Linked DNA regions of Homo sapiens. The protein of the gene in region 2 purifies or fractionates together with the protein of the main gene of each other region. This does not show direct contact. Each region holds a gene or a part of one and is shown on either strand. Other genes may lie near its edges.

Evidence for each region. The genes of interacting proteins can lie anywhere in the genome.
Region 1: the proteins of NIN (region 2) and BICD1 purify together in Homo sapiens (co-immunoprecipitation; one study listed by IntAct). This does not show direct contact.

What each region holds. Positions count from the first base shown.
Region 1 is NC_000012.12:32,333,099-32,337,782, reverse strand, and holds part of BICD1 (protein bicaudal D homolog 1), read right to left. Parts: intron 3,268-4,684; coding exon 3,116-3,267; intron 285-3,115; coding exon 1-284. UniProt on the Homo sapiens protein: Regulates coat complex coatomer protein I (COPI)-independent Golgi-endoplasmic reticulum transport by recruiting the dynein-dynactin motor complex.
Region 2 is NC_000014.9:50,718,557-50,723,640, reverse strand, and holds the end of NIN (ninein), read left to right. Parts: coding exon 1-178; 3' UTR 179-3,878; downstream 3,879-5,084. UniProt on the Homo sapiens protein: Centrosomal protein required in the positioning and anchorage of the microtubule minus-end in epithelial cells. May also act as a centrosome maturation factor.

The sequences.
Region 1 (4,684 bases), on a different chromosome or scaffold from region 2:
TGGGTGTCTGTGGGCCCTGACTATGCAGGAGGTAAGTGTCTATGGTGGGCACGGTGACTGATGCCTCCCCACTTACTTTAGGGCTGCCGATCTTGCTCTTTCCAAGTTTGCCTTTGCTGCGTCGGGACTGCTCATGGTCAAACTCTAAGTCCTCCAGCCTCTGGGTCAGGGCGAGTTTTTGCTGGATAGCCATTCGTAACAAAGTGTTCAGAGTCTTCTTCTCATCCTCTGCAGCTGCTAACTGTCTCTGCATCTCATCCAACTGGGTGACATATTCATCACATCTGGAACCAAAACAGAGAAGTGGTCAGAGGAAAATCTTGGTGAAACTGAATTTGGGAGTTAAGCTGAAAAGTAATAAATTTGACCGAAATTTAGAAATTTAGAAGACTGGTTTAAAGGTCTAGCAATAGAATGTAGATAACCCACAATAGCAGAAAACTGGAATATATGTTCATCCATACAATGAGATATATGGGACATTTTTAAAAAATTTATTATTATTTTGTTGTTGTTGTTTTGTTTATTTGTTTTTTGAGACTGAGTCTCGCTGTATCGCCCAGGCTGGAGTGCAGTGGCGTGATCTTGGCTCACTGTAACCTCTGCCTCCCAGGTTCAAGCGATTCTCATGCCTCAGCCTGCCGAGTTGCTGGAATTACAGGAGTGTGCCACCATGCCAAGCTAATTTTTGTATTTTTTTTAGTAGAGACGGGGTTTCACCATGTTGGCCAGGCTGGTCTTGAACTCCAGACCTCAAGTGATCCTCCCACCTTGGCCTCTCAAAGTGCTGGGATTACTGGCATGAGCCACCACGCCCAGTCATTATTATTTTTTAAAGAGACAGGGTCTCACTGTGTTGCCCAGACTGGTCTCGAACTCCTGGCCTCAAGTGATCTTCTTGCCTCAGTCTCCCAAAGTGCTGCGATTACAGGTATCAGCCACTGCACCCAGCCCATATGGAGACAGTCTTAATAGGCAATGTCTTAAACCCCAGGGACAGAGTTATCGTGGGGCTGCTGTGTAACAGACGAATAACAGTCAAGTCTCACACAATGTCCACTATACCTGAAGTGTCTTACAGTAGCTCTTTTTACTGTATGACATTGTATTCTTTGGAGGAATGTAACAAGTTTATTATAGGCTATGCCTATAGTATCCAAAATAATAATGTTTATAAAGAAAACATTTCCTTATCTATATTTATACGTTTTAGTTTAGTATAGATTGCAGCTGTTGGTCTTGTCAATTTGACTGATTTGCCTGAATTAGAAAACTGAGTATTTTCAATGATTTCTCAACCAGATGACAGAGCAATGAGTTGTCAAAAAACAAAAAACAGAAAACCCTGCAAAAACCAAGATTTCACAAGGTTTCATACAGATACAGCAGGCTGTCCGAAACATCTTTATTCAGGTTTCATACTTGTGCCGAAGAAGAAAGATAAGCTTAGTGATCTTTTTTCCTTACCAAAGGCAAAACCTGGCACATATACATTTGGAAGGTAGAGGTGGCGTGGAGAAAAAGCTCATTCTGAATTTTGTTTTGTTTTTTTTCTGAGTTTATTTACCCGCTAAAATATGAATAACAAATACTGTTCATGCCAAAAAAAAGTCTGTGAAAATAGACAATTTGGGGATAACAATTCCTTTTTATAAAAAATTATTATTATTTTTGAGACGGAGTCTCGCTCTGTCACCCAGGCTGGAGTACAGTGGTGTGATCTCAGTTTCTGGGGGACTCCTATAAAGCTCAAGAGATCTTTTTTTGTTTGTTTTTAACACTTTTACATGTATCAGCCAAATGTAAATTATTTACTAAATCTGCAAGTAAAGCCATAGTAATTATTCGTGAATTTTGCACCAAGTTTGCATCATACAAGATACACAATTGGTAGGATTTGGTCGGGCATGGTGGCTCATACCCGTATCTCAGGACTTTTGGAGGCCGAGGTGGGCGGATCTCTTGAGCCCAGGAGTTTGAGACCAGCCTGGGCAACATGGCGAGACCCTGCCTCCACAAAAACCACAAAAATTAGCGGGTGTGGTAGTGCAAGCCTGCAGTCCTAGGTACTCGGGAGGCTGAGGTGACGTGGGAGGATTGCTTGAGTCCAGGATGTCCAGGCTGCAGTGAACCGAGATAGCGCCACTGCACTTCAGCCTGGGTGACAGAGTGAGACCCTATCTCAAAAAAAAAAAAAAAAAAGTAGGTCTTTTTTGACACTGCATTGTGACAGCAAAAAATGTATTTCAACAGTATATTGAAAATCTCAAGATTCTGAAAACTTCAAATCAAATACATTCTTAACAATCACTTCATGTTTAAACACAAAATACAGCCGGGCGCGGTGGCTCACGCCTGTAATCCCAGCACTTTGGGAGGCCGAGGCGGGCAGATCATGAGGTCAGGAAATCGAGACCATCCTGGCTAACAGGGTGAAACCCCGTCTCTGCTAAAAGTACAAAAAATTAGCCGGGCGTGGTGGCAGGTGCCTGTATTCCCAGCTACTCGGGAGGGTGAGGCAGGAGAATCGCTAGAACCCGGGAGGCGGAGGTTGCAGTGAGCTGAGATCGCACCACTGCCCTCTAGCCTGGGCAACAGAGTAAGACTCCGTCTCAAAAAAAAAAAAAATTATAAGTAATTAGCTGATGTGATGATTATTAATCTTCATTATGACAGTATCTTCTCGCACAGTACTAAAGGTAAGGCACTTTTATATACTTTCATGTACTTCCTTCACAGAACTCTATTTCAGAGGTGATAATATTTAGCTATTCTAGGAAGTGGGGTTTTTTTCCTTATTGAAAGCTTTTTATTTGGAGGGAGACTCTCTTTGGGGTGCATAAATTCTAGAAACAACCTATTAATATTAGCTTACTTAAAAAATATTTTTATGTAATAGAATTTCTGGATCCAGAGTGTTCAGTAGGGGGCTCTGGAAAACAGCACAGAAGGCTTGCTTTTAGATACGTCAGAGTGGACTTCCACAGATTTTCTTCACACTTAGCCATCCTAGACTACTCACCGAATACACTCAACATGCACAAAGGCAGGGCTGTGAATTTTAAAGCCTTTACCCCACCTACCACACCCAGTCATAGGAAGAAAATACTGTTACCTTGTTGCAAACATTGCTCTCAGGGATGAGAAGGTTGCAGCATCTTCTTTCAAAGCCTTCAGTTCATTTCTAAGCTTCGTCATGGTTTCAGTCACCATTGCTTTTTCATTTTCATATTTGTTCTTGAGATTAGCTAGCGCCACCTCAGCTGTCTAAAGCAGAAAATCACACTGCTTACAATTTTCATATCAGGAAAATCCATCATACAGATTGCTTCATGCTGTGCCTATTATGTTCTTTTATAAAAGGAAAGTGAAATTGATTTGGTTACATTTTATATAAACATAGGTATGCGCTTTGGACACAGGGAAGTTTTTCTTTAATGTCAAAATGTGTTGTGAATTCATAATGTGGTTAAATTGCCCTAGAAGCCCGCTGCGAGCCAGAGTCAGTATCAGGAGCTAAGAGAATGACAGTAGTTTAATAAATATTTAATGCAGATTGCTGAAAGTATGCGATTTTAGGACAAGGAGGGAGCCAAAATGAAACTTTATACAAAAAAAATTTTTTTACCAATTATTTAGTAAAGAAGCACAGCTTCAATAGGAATAATCAAATTGGAATATGTTAGAACTCAAATTTTGTCACCTGTGCTCTGTGGGCCCAAAACATAGAATAAAAGACATACACCATTGTAATTTATAATATGAGTATATGATAAACTATAAATCCATGTTATCATACATTTAAGGAAAAGAAGTGATAAAGAACTAATTACTTTCTAATTTGCATACAATTTGTCCAAACAATGAAATATAGTGAAATATAATTCCTTCAAAATCTCCATAAAAGTAGGGGTTATAAAATGTTGAATGAGTTAAAACATTTGTTTGAATCTGGGATTTGGGCATGTCCGAAGTTCTTGGAATTAATAGTGTTTCAAATCAAGAGCTACCCTGGCACACACACAAGTAAAAAAACACACTGACTGAATCAATGCATAAAATCAGTGTATACTTAGGGATTGCCTGTTTGATGCATAGCACACAGTTTGCATGTTGAAGCCAAACTGGGAACACATGATTTTTACAAACTGGAAACTATAACTTTTCAAAGTGTATACAAATACCCCATACTAATGAACAACCCCATTACTAGCAGAGAAATCCATTACTAACGGGATTTCCCAGGAAGACTACCTTGGTTTTTAACATTTCTTTTTGTTGCTTGAAATGGGCAGCTTCAAACCTTCATATGCAAAGTGCCAACATCTATAGAAATAAATTCTTTCTTAATTAAATCAATGTTGGGATAGGGTACTTTGTTACTGTTTTGATTCCGAAGTAGTTTCTTGTGAGTTTTGATTGGATTTAAATTCAGATTAAAATGAGACTTTACTCATAAAATACTTCTGTATGTTCTGTAAATACTTGGAGGAATCTTCAGAAATATTACAGATTCAGAAAATTATCCACAAGGCAGAAATTGACCTGGGGAAAAACGGCAGTTGTTTAGTGTTTAAAAAGCTTAGACACATATTCATTTAAAACAGAAAAGTATGTTTAAGTTGTGAAATGTAGATGTAACAAATTTGTAAGCACATAGAATCCCATGGTCAGTATCTAAGGG
Region 2 (5,084 bases):
GAAGGACTTGTATGTTGAAAATGCCCAGTTGTTGAAAGCTCTGGAAGTGACTGAACAGCGACAGAAAACAGCAGAGAAGAAAAATTACCTCCTGGAGGAGAAGATTGCCAGCCTCAGTAATATAGTTAGGAATCTGACACCAGCGCCATTGACTTCTACACCTCCTTTGAGGTCATAGCCAAACCAAAGGGTACACTCATATTTGTGCACTTTACTGAAATAGATGAACATTTCAGTAGGTTCTCAACTTAAAATTAAGCCTAACCTAAAACTGCCAGCAACACAACTGGAGTTTCCATTTATCATAATTAGTTTTTCTAAATAGACCCTTATGGGAGTTTGAAAATAAATACTCACATATTTCACTACTTAAATTATTCCCAAGATTTGAATTTATTTTAAAATTTTAATAGCCACCAAGAATGTGGACATATGAAAATTCAAGAACCTAAAAAATACCAGTTTTGAATGAGTTTTTGTGGTTTTGGTTTTTTTTTTAATTATTACAAATCTATGTGTAAAATCTAGATATTTGAAGTTTGAGATCTGATGAGAATGGTTGTTATAAACTTTATTTTAAAACCAAATTTAGGTGTTCTTACATATTTAAATACTGGAAAGTCATTATAATAGTTTTGGTTCTTTGAATTGGTAGACAATTAGTAGAGTATAATTGGTTAGGAGGCAGGGCTTATTAAGTGGTTATTAACCGCTGACATCAGACAAACCCAAATCTGTAGAATTCTAACCTTCTAACACCTGTGACAGTATTACCACTCTTCTTGTATTATAGATTTAGAACTGATTTACTCAATTGCACTCTTAACTAATGTTAAAAGCTTACTTGCTTTAAACAGCCTTTTCTTCTTTCTCTTAAAAGTTTCATTTGGGGAGCTGGTCTTCTAAGAAACGGATAAAGCCACATAATTAAAGCAGTTGAACTATAGGGAAAGCACTGAACAAACCACTTTGGAGTAAATAGCTACTCTTAGAAAAGAGGGATAAGCAGACCATGTAGGTTTTCTGTCTCTCAAATCTTAGAGTTCATAAATTTACTTGAGGTTGCCTCAAGAACTCAGGGAACAATACTGTAAACTGTCTTCCTGAACTACTGTAGGGCCTCTCTAAGAATTTGAAATGTATAAACCATGTGACCTCATTTATTTGTCTTATATATTTACAGCCATACTAGAATTTTTATTTCTACGTTTTTAGTAAATTTAATATTCTGGGGGAAAAAAGGCCTTGATTTTAGGGTTAAAAACCTGACTTATAGAAGAGTTTATTTAATATAGGTCAAAATTTTCTGTGTTTCTTATTCCTTCTATACCTCAAATCTGATTCTAAGAATTTCTTACTGTGATAATCATTGGCATGCCACCTGAGGTCAAGGAGTGCCAAATAGGACTTTCCACTCATGCTCAAGATCAAAACTTTATAGAACAGTCAACATTTTAGATTCGGTAACCTTTTTTTTCTTCCAATTATAATCTCTGCTAGCCACTTCCGCCAGCAGTTGGTGGAAGACTTACTAGGTGCAGGGCACTTTCCAAGTTCATCACAACAACCTGCTTGTTTTCATGAGACAATAATCCGAAAAGTTCGCTTTGATATATTCCTGGAGGGCCAAGCCCATCTATTTACAAAAGGTGAACAGCAAAATCAAGCACTGCTTTATGGGCAGGAACACAAGAGAAAGCAAACTGCCCAAGAAGTCATCATGTCAGAAACTCAATCTCAACAAAATAATTTCCATCAGGGAACTTCAGGGTTTCTTGGGGGCTTATGAGTCTCACCGGTCAACCCAGGAGGCCTCACTACAAGAGCCTTGACAAGGCACTGTTTTTTGTGGGACTGGGAGTTCACACTGATGAAGCAAACCTTTGAATTTTTGCACAGCTCTTGTCAGAAAGCCCTGAGTTCCCCCTGGATAAAGAGTTAATTTTAATCCTTCCCTATAATTATACTTCAAAATATTTGACATCTGCTATTATGCCTTCTTTAGATCTTTCTTCTGTGGTGCAGACATTTCTAGTAAGTGTTTGACTACTTGTATGGCATTAGCTTTCACAGAAAATTGTTTCACTTAAAACTGTGGATTGGCCTAGGCTAAGGACAAAAATAAACTAAGTACCTGTAGTGTATTTATGTGATATGTGTCAAGTTACTCAAAGTTATTGCTGTTGGAACTGAACAATAATATTTCCCAGATAGCTGGCCTTAGCATGTGATCACGGTTGTTGTATTTTTAATTTTTGTCTTTTACAGTATGAGAGGTGTAGGTTAATTTGTTTATTTCCTATAAATTTGTATTTATGTGTATATAAAATGTACAATGAATGTAAATATGACTTTCTGGAAAGTTTAGACTACATTTAGAATCTCTATTCAAAATCAAAATGCTGCTCAAATGAATTTAACCAACATCTAGGTGCTTAATTTCTCATTTTATCCCACTTATGAGATTGGGAAAAAGATCAATATGAGAAATACCATACAGATACCTTAAATGTATGCATTTGTGCAACAATTTTTGAGAAGGTGAGTGGCAATTTATAATTTAGTTGGCAATTTATAATAGAACTTATAGCTTTTAAAAGACCTTTTAAAGACATTAAATGTAAACTTAAAAATGTTTAGATCTTGTTTCAAACTTTACAATAGCATTCTTCAAAATATTAAGTTATATATTTTATAGGCATTTAGTTGCTTATTAAAAGCACTGATTTTCAAACTTTTTGATTTAAGAACAATTATTTAAGATCGTCTCAGAAGATGGGATCTTCGTTTCAAGAAAAGGGAATCAAGTTTGCCTTTGAGATAATACGTTACACTAAGAAAAGGAAAATGTGGATAGTAAAACCCACCTCTCTCATCCTATTGTACTCTCTTCTGCTTTTTAGAAGCCTGCACTTAAGCTTAGATTTGTGAAGGGAGAGTAGAAGGGGAGAAGTAGAACCACAGTGTTTTATTTATTTTTCTAAAACTCTTACTAAATCCAGATTTTTTAAACTGTTTTAAATGTGAATTCTTCCCAGAAATTTCAATGCATTGCATATTTAGCCTTCGGCATATTTTTCATGAATAGATCATGAAGTCATAGGCTTCCAAGGCATAGGAAGAGATCTTGCAGGTCTAGTATTTTAATAATGCACTATTACCCAGGGCAGATATTATGAGAAACTGTTTCTTCTCTAAGGGTTTATGGCAGACTTTGCTTTTTTAACATGTGAGAAATGAATTTTTTATTTTGTGATTTATGTGATTTCTTTTGCTGAGTGAAGGAAAGGAGAAATTGTTGCTATTGTCAGCATCTTAAAGGTATTTCCAGTCAAGGCAAGGCTAAGTGCTTTGTGATAGTATTAAGCAAGTCATGTTTTGAATGGATTACCTGTAGTGACTCATTGGAATGATATAATTATACAAGTAATGCCAAAAACCAAGTCAAAGCCTAATTAACCAAAGCACTCATTTAAAAATCATCATGTTTGGACCTATCTGGACCTCTCAGCACTGTAAAATAGTTTTGGTTTTGTGGCATATGAATAGCTGTTTAACAAATCAAAGTTAGCTTTTTGCTTCTCAGCTTTTTTGGGCAATACAAGTTAAGTTCTTAATGGGGAGACATTATCATGGCATGACTTAAGGGAACATTGGTTTGTGAAGGAAAAACAGATTATCTAAAGCCATCTCTATGTTTCTGTTCAGATAAAGATTAATGAGTTCTGTGTTTATATCAGCTTTGTATATTTCATCTTAGCCATTCTATCCTAGAAAGATTTTAATGTGAGCTTAAGATGTAAATAAATAATTTTGCAAACATGCCTTTTGTTTTCTATATACCCTGACCTTTTAATAAAGTTTCAGTGTATTTATCATTGGTCTTTAGAATGGTAGCATCAAAATATTTCACTAAACACATTCTACAAATGCAGAATCTCAGCCCGCACTCCAGACCTACTAAATCAGAATCTTCATTTTAAAGAGATTCCCCAAGTGATTTGTATAGGATTTAGAGCATTGGGACTCCATTTCTATTATAGAAGGATGACTTTTACACCAGCCAGTTTGGGGTCCCCGTATACTGTGGCAGTGCATAGTTTACCTGCAGAATCATGACTTAACCTTGGGCAAGGCCCTGTTTGTGATTTTGGGTGCTTCAAAGATGGCTTTATTTCATGTTGCCATCTTTAGGGGTGGCTCAGACTTTCTTAATTGAGCAGCTCATGAATGATGAGATATATGCAGTTGGAAACACAAAAACAACCTAAAACCATGTTAATATGCTGAACACTGAAATGTAGAATTGGAAATGTTGGCCAAACTGACCCATCTCACAAGCCTGTTTTATTTCATTTCAAAGCTTTTATACCAACCTCATACTGCCTTTATGTGGCAGGAACTACCATTATTCCCATTTTATGGATGAGAAAATGGAAGCTTAGCAAACTCAAGGCCACACTGCCAGCTAGGTCGGGAACTTGGGACTAGAGGCTCAGGTTTGTCCTGTGTTGCAACACTTCTATCAGTTCCTACTTCTGGCAGAACTATCAGTGTTGGTTCAATGGCAACCATGTACACTGCACTCTGAAGAAAGTACTGTGTAAAACATTCCTGCCATCTGTTTGTGGTGGAGTGGTAAGATTTACACAGAAAAGAAGATTAGAAAATCTACATCCATACAGAAGATAATCAAATGTTGATGGACTCTGTGCTATGAGCACCAAAATAAGATTAGTGTCAAATGGGTAAGGTCCTTAACCTAGCATTCAATATAATTCTGCACTTCATTGAGATTTGTGCAGCCTGTGTGTTTTGTAGTCTTATTTACTGTGCAAAATTATAAGAAGTAATTTTCTAACATGTACTTGATGTCCATTTTCCCCATAATAATAGTTATGTTTTGGCCATAAGACTGGAATTCTCACTTAAATTATGTGAAATGTCTATTATATAATCTCCTGATCAAAAGGTTAAATTTCACCCAGAAGTGCTTTCTATTCTTTGGTTGCTTCACTTGCAAATCAGGAGACATGGCTAGTTTTGACAGACTTTTTTAAAAATTCCATATAAAGTTAAAATTC